Homo sapiens: one gene and its partner. The protein of the gene in region 2 interacts with the protein of the main gene of each other region in a biochemical or structural test. Each region holds a gene or a part of one and is shown on either strand. Other genes may lie near its edges. The genes, in order: RHOQ and CDC42BPG.

Region 1 (7,252 bases), on a different chromosome or scaffold from region 2:
TGAACTTCTCACTACCTTCCTTTCTCTTATCTCCTTTACTTGTGACCATGATAATTTTTGACCGCACTCCCTGTTCAACAGGATGTGTGTAGTCAGAGCTGTTCTGAGTATGTTTAAACCCTGCTAGTATTTACTGAGTTTTTTCCTACATATGGGGCCAGAGGCAGACACATGCAAATATTATTTTATTTAGTCCATAAAACAACCCCATGAGATAGGTGGTATTTCATCTTTGCGGTGAGGAAACAGGCTCAGAGAAGCTAGGTTGCTTGCCTGAGGTCACACAGCTACTGAGGGGTGTTGCTAGGATTGGGACAGGGGTCTGAATCTGCTCCAGTTTGAAGTAGTTATACACACAGGACACCATGGGAATGCTGAGATGCCACGGGGTTGATTGGATTGTTTGTGCATCCATAGTTGTGGTACCTGTAATCTTCACAGCCATTCTCTGAGTGGGTGTTGGATGGCACCTCTACAGAGGAGAGAACTTAGATCCAGAGTCACTTGAAGTTGACCCCACTTACAAAACCAGGGCTTTCCATATATGGCCGTAATTACTCTTTTTAGTGGAGGATCATAAGATATAGACCAAGCAGGATGAACATATTAGTAAGGCTCAAATACTACTGTTTTCACCCAATGCTGGACACCATTGGTGGGGCCTAGATGTGTGTTAGGCCCCATTGGTGTTTTTCCCAGTGTCTAGACTTTTGTTTTTGCATCAAAGCTAGTAATATTTCATCTCCCAGCATTTGAGGGTTTATTACTAATAAGCAACTTAGCAATGATGAGACCAAATGGCAAGTGCCTGCTGTGTACCTGGTACTATGTCCAGGTACTTTTGCACCTGGGGAGTGCAAAGGAATGAATTTAAAATGGGGATCTACCACAGCTGATGTCAGCAAAGGGAGAAATGTCTGTCTCGGGTCTCTGTTCATGTGTTACATAGGAGATCTCTACATTGCACTTGGTCATTAAGACCTCAGGCTTCTAGGAATCCATATCAGATTTGTCTTACAATAATAACAATGATAAATAAACATGTAAATAAAAAGTAAATAAAAAACATTAAGGGTTTATATATATATATATGTATCCGTATACACATATACATATATATATATATATATATATGTGTATATATATATATATATATATATATATATATATATGTATATACATATATATATATACACAAATCCTTAAGCCTAGTGGGCAGCAGAGAAAGGTCCATGGGCTTTGGAACAAAACAGGCCTGGGCTCAGATCTCCACCTTAGCTAGTCATGTGATTCTAGCTAAATTATTTACCTTTGTGATCTAGTAAAAACGTGAATAATTAGAATCTGCATTACAAGGTCATAGGCTGGCTTAAACTCTTTAACATATTTAAAAGCAGCTGATACTTTGTGCATAGTGGGTGAGTGACAAATAGTACAGGAAATTATTATATTCCACTATGGGGAGTTTTGTGGGGAGAAAGGTTCACAGAGTGGAAGAGAACAGTATATTGTGCCTGGAGTTGATAGAAATTCCACTAGAATGCCAGATCCTAGAACCTTTTCAACCAAGGTGTGCAACAGCTTTGCGCATTGTAATTCCCATAGTCCCTATTGTGGGATCCATGGTTCCAAGCCCAGTGCTCCCTGCCGTAAATGCCCTGTTGTATCAGATGGTTTTCTGTCTTAAGCAGAGCCCGTATCCCCATTGATAGAAGAGAAATAGCTTAGAGTTCCATGCAGAATTTGACAGACAAGTAGGGTATGTAGGCTTCAGTTGGTTCTACTTTCAGAGAGTTAAGATGGAATGAGGCAGCTCATGGCACTACAGGTCAGTTGCCTTCTCTCCAAAATGTTCACTCATGCATGTGGGCACTCATTGTATTTGAATAACAGCAACAGTGCCTCCCTCAGTTTGGAACCTCTAGTCCACTTGCTCACTCATGGTCCCTGCCTTAACCCCAGTCAAGTTCAAAGCCATAGGCATCATTTGTCCGACTGACATATTAGGGCATCTACCAGTCAAAGGGTGATTGTTGTAGATGACCTTTGGCCTTCTAGAGCAGGCTGCTTTCCACTTGACCTCTGCTGCTATTAGCAGACAAAGAGAGAGAATGGGAGAGAGAGTGTATTGGACTTCAGTCCCCATCATGTGCACTGCCTGGGGACATCCCAGCACACTCAGAGCACCACTGCCAAAGGGAACACTTCCCCTCTGTTGGCCAAGCCCATGGGTGGTCCAGGAGCAGCTGTCACATTTTGACTGCCAAGCATTTTGGAGTGGAAGTTGACCGAGGCATCTTCCTTCTCACTAGGGGCCTTGCGTGTGTTTTGGGGGTGAGGGGTTGGCTTCCTGCCTGGGCCTCTGTGGAGCTTCTCCTTTCTTGCCCAGCCTTCAGGACTTCAGTGTAGGCTCTGCAGCAACCCCATTGTCTGCTCAAGGAGGGACTGGAGAGATGGGATTTTCCCTCCTGCTACTGCACTGTTTGGAGCGATGGGAAGTGGAAAGAGCTCTCCCTCTCTGTCCAGACAGGCCAGTGGGGAGCTGCCTGGCAAGCTGCTCTCTAGCTGTGGGCTCTAGGCTGATCTCTTAATCCTTGGCAGGAAGGCAGAACTTGATACCCTGGAGAGGGAAGGACTGAAGCCCAGTTTATTCAGGTCCCAGAATATCCACACTCAGGAGGATGTGTGTTGGGGGTGAATTTGGGATCCCTAGAGTTCCAGATTTAGCCACTGTCTCAGTGTGTGGAAGTCAATTTGTGTGCTTTGGGATGTATTGTTTCTATGTCTGTTAACTTAAACACACAAGTTCAGGGAAGCGTCCATGACAGCTATAAATATCTTTTACTCTGGTGTCCCTTGGTGTTGCTTTTTCAATGACAAGTGAGATTTGTTTTACACTTGATATAACCCAGCAGCTGTGGCTGCCCTGCATGCCCTCTGGGTGCCCACAAGGCACTTCCCCTACAGAAGGGAATCTCCACCGGAGGCAGGCTTGGCATGCCCCACCTTCTGCATTTTAGCAGAAGGGCCTGGCATGATGAGAAAAGGGAAGGAGAAAGGGCCATGGGATCACCACTCACCAGGCTCCTCCCACCTCCAGGCAAGTCATCCTCACAACACCCTTCAAGGTAGACTTCTCCCAGATGAGGAAATTGGGAACAAGTGGGCTTATGGGAACCAGACAGAGATGTGATTAGGAAAAAGGTTTTCTACTTTGGAGAAGGCCTGCAGGGAACATTAGTAGGGTTTAGGAAATGCCACTCACAACATCAGACTCTGGGTCCTTGTAGCCCCGTGTTCCATCCTTGCTCAGCCCGGTGAGCAGAGCCTGGGAGGAGCCCCAGGGTTCCTTCCAGGCATCAGCTGCAACAGGTGAGATGCTGGCACTGAGCATCCTGGTTTCCCTTAGTAACCTACTGTAGATTTGTCATGTGTGCATTTTGCTAACCTTTTTAGAAGCTATTTATATCTCTAGCCCACACCGCATCACACGGGAATGCTGGTTTCCTCCTCTGCGTTGGGAAGGTGGATAGCCTTTGTTGACTCCAAAGCCTTTGCTGTGTTCGCTCCAAAGTCTGAATGCCCTGTGTTCCCCTCCTTGGGACTCTGATGTGGGTTTGGGTTATGCCAGCTTAGACTGTGGGCTGGCAGGCAGGGACTTTAGGGTGGGGGCAGTCCCCACCAGCTCTCGTTGGTCTACAATTATGCCTCATAATCGGGCACATAATCTGTGCCCCATCCCCATCCTGGACCTTTGATCTGTTTGGCTTCTCCACTTCCATCATGATTCTCCTGAGGTTTGGTGACATTCCCACGCTTTGAACGACAGCTTCCCCGCAGGTATCTCAAGCATGAGTGTTACAGGTGTGCTGAGATGCCAAGCTCTCATCTCTGAGGGGCCGGGGGAGTGACAGCCTAAGGGGGTTGAGCATGTATTGTCAGTTGCTGTGGGTGCTGTGATGTGAAAAAGGTGGGAAGCATTGCTTTAAGCCCCTCGGGGTCAGAGGCCCCATGGAGAATTGGGCTTTTGCGGTTTTGTTGTGCAGTTTGGGGTTTCAAGAGATTAGATCTAATGGTATGAAAACAAAGCCAACAAAGTAGCTCTCCACGGGGGTGTCCGTTTCCAGAAAGAGCACATGTGTTGGCAGCTGTGGGTGCTACAGAGGCCTCAGACACAACAGCAATGCTTCAGCAGGAGAGGGACGCAGTTACAAAGAAACAAGATGGAAGACCATGTGTGGCTCTTAAAAATTAAAATTCCTGATTCTCAGCTGTATTTCCTTTCTCTCTGACAGGCTTGGCTTTGCCCTAATTTGGCACACTTGGGTCAGAGAGCAGCTTTCCTTGCCCTCAGCAATTTGTCATTCCTCTTTTGGTTTCTGAGCACAGCTGCTTTGCATGTACGGAGGCTGGGCTGTCTGAGCTCTCAGGGGTCCCCCGGCTCCCTGGGTAGAACGCTCTCCTGCCCAGTGCCGGCCAGGACCTCCTGGATGCGTTCTTGCTCTCTTCAAGAACAGTGTCTTTCTCTACCATGTTGCAGTGCTCAGCCCAGTGCCTGCTACCTTGTAGGCATGCAACAAATACATCTTAAGGGGATTCATGGCCAGGCAGGGTGGCATGTTCTTGTCTGTAATCTCAGTACTTTGGGAGGCCAAGGCTGGAGGATCATTTGAGGTCAGGAGTTCAAGACGAGCCTGGACAACACAACAAGACCCCCAATTCTACTAAATTTTTTTTTTTAATTAGCCAGATGTGGTAATGCATGCCTCTGTAGTCCCAGCTACTCAGGAGGCTGAGGTGGGAGGATCACTTGAGTGCAGGAATTCAAAGCTGCAGTGAGCTATAATACAAGGCTTCATTGCACTCCAGCCTAGGCATTAGAGCGAGACCGTGTTTATTTAAAAAAAAAAAAAAAGAATTGATTCTCATTTGACTGTCAGCTTGTTTCTGCTAAAAGGTTAACCAAGGACTAAAGTCATAGCTGCTAAATAATAGCATCAGCACAACCCCTTTTCCAGGAAAGCTTCACTAATACAGTAGAAGTCTTTAAGGTTCAAAGGAGAAACAGGCACATAGGTATGGGGCAGGCCATCAGTTTTGTCTTTACACAGGCCCAGGGGCCTTAGTGATCACCAGTGGGTCTGTCTGTCCCCCAACACTCTGTCTCAGACTCCGGCCTTTGCATGTTTCCTGAGACCTCTTGCTCCCAGATCCCCTGAGGAGGAGACAGGTTGGCAGTGGAAAGAGTGTGGGTTTTGGAGCCTCCAGATGAACTTCGAATCCTAGTTCTACCTCTTTGTAGCTGTGAGACATCGGCCAGCCGGCTCACTTCTGTGAGCCTCTCTTCCTTCTGTGTGAAGTGTGGAGATAATTTATACCCTGCAGCATAGCTGTAAGGATTAGAAATGATGTATGTCGTTACCCTGTAGGGCTTGGTGCTGAGAGTGCGGGCCCAGGCTAGCTCTGGGGGCTTCACACTGGCTCAGTTCGGTTGGTGTTGATTCAATGCCTGGTGTGTGTTCCCACCTTCCACAGGAGAAGGTGGGGGATCGGGCCACAGAAAGGTCCACTACACAACTGGGCAAGTTCATCGTGTGAAATTGAGTGCTGCAGGGTCCCACACAGGAAGAGGTGACAGGGAGGAGCTTTTTGGAAGATCTAGGCTTGCAGGAAGAGATGGGGGCCAGTAGAGTACTGGTTGCCAGTGTGGACCCCCACACTGGACTCCCAGGGCCCAACTTCAGCTCTGCCACTTCCCAGCAAGGGGCTTAACCTTCGGAAACCTGTTTCCTTATCTGTCAGATGGAGATTATGATAGTACCTCCTTGTGGGGTTGTTAGATATGTTGGAGCTTCCCAGCTCCCAGATAAGGGATTTCCTCAGCCCTCAGGGCAGCTGGGTAGGGCCTGGGACAAGCCATGGCTCAGGTTGTCCTAGCTTGAGCAGTCTCACCTCAGGCATGCAGCAGTGGCTCCTCTACTCCACCCGATGTGTGCTGAACACATCATCTCATTTTCTCTGTGTGCCATGAGGTGAAGATTTGGGAAGCATTGACCTAAATGAGTTCCAGCAGGCAGAGGGGTGTGGAGAGCTCATATTCTGAGTGGGAAGAATAGTGTAGGGAGGAACGGCAGAGGGGGTGACCCCAAAGCGTCTTTTTATGGACCCCAGATCCCTGCTATCAGTGTCAACATGTGGAGCAGGGTTGATAACTAAATTATGGAGTTTTTCACCTGGTGACTGACAACTTGGTAATTAAAGAGATATTAATCTGGTGCTGTGTTGCTGGTTGATTTTAATAGAAAGAAAAGAATGTGGGGAAAGGGGTCTTTATTGCTGTCTCTGTTCCTTTTTGAGTGAATGGTGAGAGCACTGAAGCAGCCGCCTCTCCAGATCCCTAGATTTTCCTGCTCTACTCAGGCTCAGGGTAGACTGAGGGGCTTAAAAGTGGCAGGCTCATCATCAAATGACATTTTTACAGCACATAAAGCATGTCGCACCTGGTACCGCCTTGAGTTCCCTCACCTGCTCTGTGAGTAAAGGAAGCCAGTGGTGGCTGTCTCATTTTGCAGATCTGGGGAGGTTAAATGACTCGCTCCAGGCCACACGGTTGGTAAAAGGCAAAGCCGAGATCACCAGGCAGGCTGTCGGACTTTAAGCCCTGGGTTCTTGATGTTAAGTCACTCTCCCTAATCATCTGGCCCATGTTAAATGCCTCTTTTATCACATGCACTGTTGTTCAGCGTTTCATGTAAAAGGTACATTCCAAGCGTATCGCTTTTCTAGCTAGAAGAGATGGTGGAACATTGTGTATAGGTGGAACACGTAGGGACGGCTGCTAAAACGGCTCCTACAAAGACTTCTGCCCCACGTGACGTTACGGGTGTTTTGTCACTTTGTCCCTAAACCACCATGCTTCCTCAAAAAGGAGCAGGCCCGAGGTGGCGCTGATGGCCCCATTGCTCAAGTACGTGTGGAAGAAGCTCATGCCATTTGCCTAAAGCTGTGGCCCCTTCCCAGAAGAGAGGGACAGGGAAATGCTGTTTGGGGGGCTGCCAGGCGGGCCAGCTTTAGCCTGCAAATGACGGGTGTCGTTTGTGTCCCATGGGGGCTACCTCAGGCCTTTCCTTTCTCCCTTCAAGGATTTTCTTATTCAGGGGAAGCCTACCTCTGCAAAACTGTTTGTCCCTCCTTCATCTGAATATTCTCTAAATATGGCGCAAAACTTCCTCTGCCACCTGCTGCTCATATT
Region 2 (5,354 bases):
TCTGTCACTCAGGCTGGAGTGCGGTGGCACAGTCCGCCCGCTTTGGCCTTCCAAAGTGCTGGGATTACAGGCTTGAGCCACCGTGCCCAGCCAGTTCACTGAATTCTTGGAGCCTCTGGCTGCTGGTTGAATTTGGACAAAGGGAGGCAGAAAATGGGAGGGAGTGAGGCGGAGGAATTTATTTCCTAGGCTGCCTTTCAGCTCAGCCATGGTCAAGTTTTACCAAAAGCTAGAGCTCCTGTCGGGTAGCACCACTGCCTCTTCCTGCCTGGGTGGCCTGGGGGTCCTAAGAGCTCCTCTCTGCTGCCCGGGCCCTGAGGCACTGCCATTCATTGGTGTGTTCCCTTAGCACTGTGCATGCTTCTGTAAACTGCCCTTCGTTAGTTAAGTCCCTTCATTTACCCCATTTGAATGTCACCTGATTCCTGAAAAGGCAGGGAAGACAATCTGGCCTTTAACTGTCTGTGACACCCCCACTGTTCCCTCCATTCCTAATCTCCCACCTTCTGAACCCCAAGAGGACAGATCCAGGCAAGGAGGCCAGCAGCTTACAAAGCTGTCTTTATTGGTTTCCTTTTCTTTTCTTTTTTTTTTTTTTTGAGACGGAGTCTCACTCTGTCACCCAGGCTGGAGTGCAGTGGCGCGATCTCGGCTCACTGCAAGCTCCGCCTCCCGGGTTCACGCCATTCTCCTGCCTCAGCCTCCCGAGTAGCAGGGACTACAGGCACCCGTCACCACGCCCGGCTAATTTTTTGTATTTTTAGTAGAGATGGGGTTTCACCGTGTTAGCCAGGATGGTCTCAATCTCCTGACCTCGGGATCTGCCCGCCTCGGCCTCCCAAAGTGCTGGGATTACAGGCGTGAGCCACCGCGCCCGGCATCTTTATTGGTTTCTTGCGCCTCACAGAGCATCAGGGTCTGTCCCTCCTGGGAATGTGGCATTTGAGGAGATAAATACTTATTTTGCCCCCCACACTTCAGTGGGGGGAGGTTTAATAAAAATAGTAATATAATAACAATATAATGACTGTGATCAATAGTAAAATGCGCCCTAGTTTCCAATACACAACTGGTTGAAGATTCGAGAAAAACGACCCCCTTTCTGGGAAGGGCCAGAGTGTGCCCGGAGACCCTCCAGTGGCCCCCACTGGGTACCCATCTCCCACCAAAAAGCCCTTATAAATACCCTCCCCATCCTGTCCCTGTCCAGGATTCTCTTCCCCGATGGGAGGATTGGCTGACAGTGTCAGCCCCGCCCACTGCACCCCTCCCCAGAGAAAGGACCCTTTGTTCTCCAGACTCCCTCTCTCCTCCATCCCTCTTTTTGTCTCCCTCCTCTTCTTCATCGCTCCTCCTTCGTCCCTCTCCCCTCTTCCTCTGCACGGCTTCTACCTCCTTCCAATTCCTATCACCTCCTCCTCCACTTCCTTCCTCCTATCCTGTCTCTCACCTCCTTCGCCTACATCCTTTCCCTCCTTCTCTATCTTCCCTTCTTCTGGATCACAGCCTGTTTTTCTCACCCAGACGCTAAGCAGAGACGGGGACATGCCCCATCTTGGCCTCAGCTGGGAGTCAGACAGTCCACAGATAAGACCTCCAACCTGTTCCCAGAGACCCAGTCCCTCTCCATCCCTCATCCCAACTCTTACAAGCCTCTGGGGGCTTGGCACTGGAAATAAGAGCTTTGGCACAATCACCCCTGGACACCAGAACAAAAGGGGCCATTCTATTCCCAATGGCTTAGAAAGGCTGGGGCTGGGAACAGAGGGGTAAGGCAGGATGAGGGCTGGGAGTCAGGACCCCCAAGTCCTGGGAACCCAGGCAAGTCTCCCAGTCATTGCCCAGCCCGGGTCCTCCCTGAGTCCGAATTTCCATGTCCCGGACCAGCCGGAGTATGGCATTCCTCAAGCTCTTTGCTCCCTCATGTCCTTCTGCCCTGGGATTGGGGTGGGCCCTAACAGAGGGCATCAAGGAGAGCTCTCCAATTCAGGGGATAGGGGGAGGCTTCGGGGCCGTTCTGAGACCTGCAGGAGAAAGAAAAGGAAGTCAAGGGGTAGGATCAGGAAGAACTCTTTCCTCATAGGGCTGGTGGGTCCTGGAGGCCCCCTTAGGACCCATCACCCACTGTATCAGGGCCCCTGGAGGAAGCCAGATGTGAGGTGAGGAGTAGAGGTGGTAAATGGGTCACTGGAAGAACCTGGAGAGCTCCTACTTAACTTTGAATGGACTCAAAGTCCTTTTTTTTTTCTTTTTTTCTGAGACAGAGTCTTGCTCTGTCGCCTAGCCTGGAGTGCAATAATGGCATGATCTTGGCTCACTGCAACCTCTGCCTCCCAGGTTCTAGTGATTCTCCTGCCTCTGCCTCCCAGGTAGCTGGGATGACAGGCATGCACCACCATGCCTAGTTAATTTTTGTTTTTCGTTTTTTTTTTTGGAGACAGAGTCTCGCTCTGGAGGCTGGAATGCAGTGGCATGATCTTGGCTCACTGCAACCTCCGCCTCCCAGGTTCAAGTGATTCTCCTGCCTCGGCCCACCAGGTAGCTGGGATTACAAGCATGCACCACCAGGCCCAGCTAATTTTTGTATTTTTAGTAGAGACAGGGTTTCACCATGTTGGCCAGGCTGGTCTTGAACTCTTGACCTCAAGTGATCTGCCTGCCTCAGCCTCCCAAAGTGCTGCGATTACAGGGGTGAGCCACAGCGCCCAGCCTCAAAGTCCCTTTGTTCATTCACTCCATTCTTCCTTCAGTCGACCACATGCTTTACTCTGGGCAGAAGAATGAAGCCTGACCCCCACCACCAAGGAGCCCACAGTCAACAGAGGAGAACAGGCACCAGAAGAAACCCACAGCACAGCAGAAGCTGCAAGGAAGGTGTGGAGGGAGCGGGGTGGCAAAGGTGGCACCAGCCCCAGGGAGGCAATGACTACCTGACCAAGCGGCCAGGAAGGCTCCTTTGAAGATGATCCTGGTGGGTCACCTGGAGGGCAGTCTGATGTTGGTTAAGGTGAAGATAGAGAAAAGGCATTCAAAACAGAGGGGACTGCAGGGGCAAGAGCCTGCAGGTGTGGAAGAACATGGCAAGCCCCAGGGCTCCAAGTGGCCTGGTGTGACGGGAGTGGGTGGATGTGTGTGCTGTAGACGTGGCTGCAGGGGGAATGGGAACCTCCCTGGCTTCTCTTAGGTTTTCCCCTGCCCTCATTCAGAATGGACTGCTCCCTCCTCTGACCCCCCAACTCCCTGCTGTGGACTGGGCCTCTATTAAGAATCCCAAGAGTGGCCGGGCATGGTGGCTCACATCAGTAATCCCAACACTTTGGGAGGCCAAGGTGGGCGGATCACTTGAGGTCAGGAGTTCGAGACCAGCCTGGCCAACATAATGAAACCCCATCTCTACTTAAAATACAAGAATTAGCTGGGCATGGTGATGCATGCCTGTAATACCAGCGACTTGGGAGAGGCTGAGGTAGGAGACTTGCTCAAATGTGGGAGGTGGGGGTTGCACTGACCGAGATTGTGCCACTGCACTCCAGTCTGGGTGACAGAGTGAGACTCCATCTGGAAAAAAAAAAAAAAAAAAGAATCCCAAGAGCTCCCCTTCTGTGGCACCTTCCCCATGCCAGGTACTATGCTGAGCCCTTCGCAGGTATCATCAGCTCATGCAGGCCTCCCAGAAACCACATCATTTTACAGGTAAGACAAGATCAGGGAGGTTGGGCATTTTGCCCAGAGCCACACAGCTGGAACAGTCAGAGCCAAGATTCCCACCTAGGCTGGCCTGCATCCAGGATCCTGCTGGTGCCCACTGGTGGGGTGAGACAGGTAAGAATCTGCATCTCGTAGAATCGAGGGCAGGGATGGGCTCAGCTTGTTCCCTAGCCTAGGTCACTGTGCAAGGCCTAGCATAAAACGGAACTGCCTGACGTTTGAATAGGGGACGGACAAGCCTCCCGGACCCGCTCACCTGCATTAGGGAGGTTGCAGGGCTCAGCGATCCCTGGGGGCAGGACACAGACTCGCTGGACAGGGATGTCCAGGGTTTCCTCTTCACTGCTCCAGCAGCAGACGAGGAGACAAAAATACCAAGATCAGATTTCAGGGATCCAAAGGGGGTAGAAACTTGGGGTGGGGGGTGGCACACTGGAGGCTGAGGGGCTGCCCTTACTGGGGTCTGCGTCTCCACCGAGGCCTTCGCTGCCCATGGAGGCTGGGCGCCGCAACGCCTCGGAGAAGCTGTGGGGCCGCTGTGGGCCGGAGCCGCGGGCAACTCGGCCCTTCTCTTCGGGAGCCTGTTGGGTGACAGTGCGGAGGGGCTGGGACTAGCAGGCACAAGGAGGACAAGAGGCCCAAGGCACAACAGACCAGGACAAATGAACGCCACTGGGCCCCCAGCCTGGTTTTACTTAAGTCCCAGGTAGCAGAAGTGTGAGTCCCAGGCCTTAGGAGTAATTACAGCGGCCCGTGATTGGCTAGAGCTCACCACAGAGGCCGGTTATTGGCTCAGCCTCACCAAAGTGGCTTGTGATTGGCTCCAGAGGACTAACCGGGGACTTGTCCCTGGCGCCGGGCCGCCCGTTGGCAGGGCCCACGTGTACTAGGTGGTTGAAGTTGGTAGGCGGCGAGATGAGCTTGGAGCGCACAAAAGGGTCCTTCAGCATCTCCCTGTGGGCGGAGGTGTAAGTAGTGGGTGGCGAAGCTCCACCCTCCCTTCGACCCGTCCACAAGCGGAGGCGGCCCCACCCAGCCTCAGCCCCCGCGTCGTGCACGCGCACCTGCGCTGCTGCTTCTGCTGCTCCTCCGACACGCGGAAAAAGAAGCGGCGCTTGCTCTTGGTGCGGAACAGCTGGCGCCGGCTGTTGTCGGTGAGGTCCGGGATGTCGAACTCGTCCTTCTCTGTGGGAGAAGTGGAGAGCTGGGCTGTGCTCACACATTCCCGGGGCCCAGTCAGCTGGCATTCAGGGCCACACAGCCACACGTGCGCACTGGGGAACGCACACACCCGTACACACGCACTCCCTCACCTGCCAGCTGGTTCCTGAGGTAGGTCAGGCGGACCTTCTCGGTGCCGTAGAGGAACAGGGAGCCCTCTGGATTGAGGGGCCGCACCTGAGGCAGCAGGCACAGCGGTCAGGCCACGCCTCCACCCCCGGCGCTACCCCAGGGCTCTGGCGGACCCTCACCTTCTTGAGCGGCACGGTCTGCACCCATTCTGCCCTCCTCACGTCAAACACATCGATGGAGTTCTCGCTGAACACTGTCAGGTAGGGGGCCGCATACCCTGCGGGCACGCCAGGCACCTCTGAGCTGTTTCCCCCTCTGTTCCACAGGGAACACCTTGTCCCCTGCCACAGCAC

The links.
Region 1: the proteins of CDC42BPG (region 2) and RHOQ form a complex in vitro, tested with the Homo sapiens proteins (one study listed by BioGRID).

The regions. Positions count from the first base shown.
Region 1 is NC_000002.12:46,545,340-46,552,591, forward strand, and holds part of RHOQ (rho-related GTP-binding protein RhoQ), read left to right. Parts: intron 1-7,252. UniProt on the Homo sapiens protein: Plasma membrane-associated small GTPase which cycles between an active GTP-bound and an inactive GDP-bound state. In active state binds to a variety of effector proteins to regulate cellular responses. Involved in epithelial cell polarization processes.
Region 2 is NC_000011.10:64,822,506-64,827,859, forward strand, and holds the end of CDC42BPG (serine/threonine-protein kinase MRCK gamma), read right to left. Parts: intron 5,279-5,354; coding exon 5,181-5,278; intron 5,107-5,180; coding exon 5,022-5,106; intron 4,894-5,021; coding exon 4,773-4,893; intron 4,663-4,772; coding exon 4,545-4,662; intron 4,290-4,544; coding exon 4,166-4,289; intron 4,051-4,165; coding exon 3,965-4,050; intron 2,025-3,964; coding exon 1,968-2,024; 3' UTR 547-1,967; downstream 1-546. UniProt on the Homo sapiens protein: May act as a downstream effector of CDC42 in cytoskeletal reorganization. Contributes to the actomyosin contractility required for cell invasion, through the regulation of MYPT1 and thus MLC2 phosphorylation.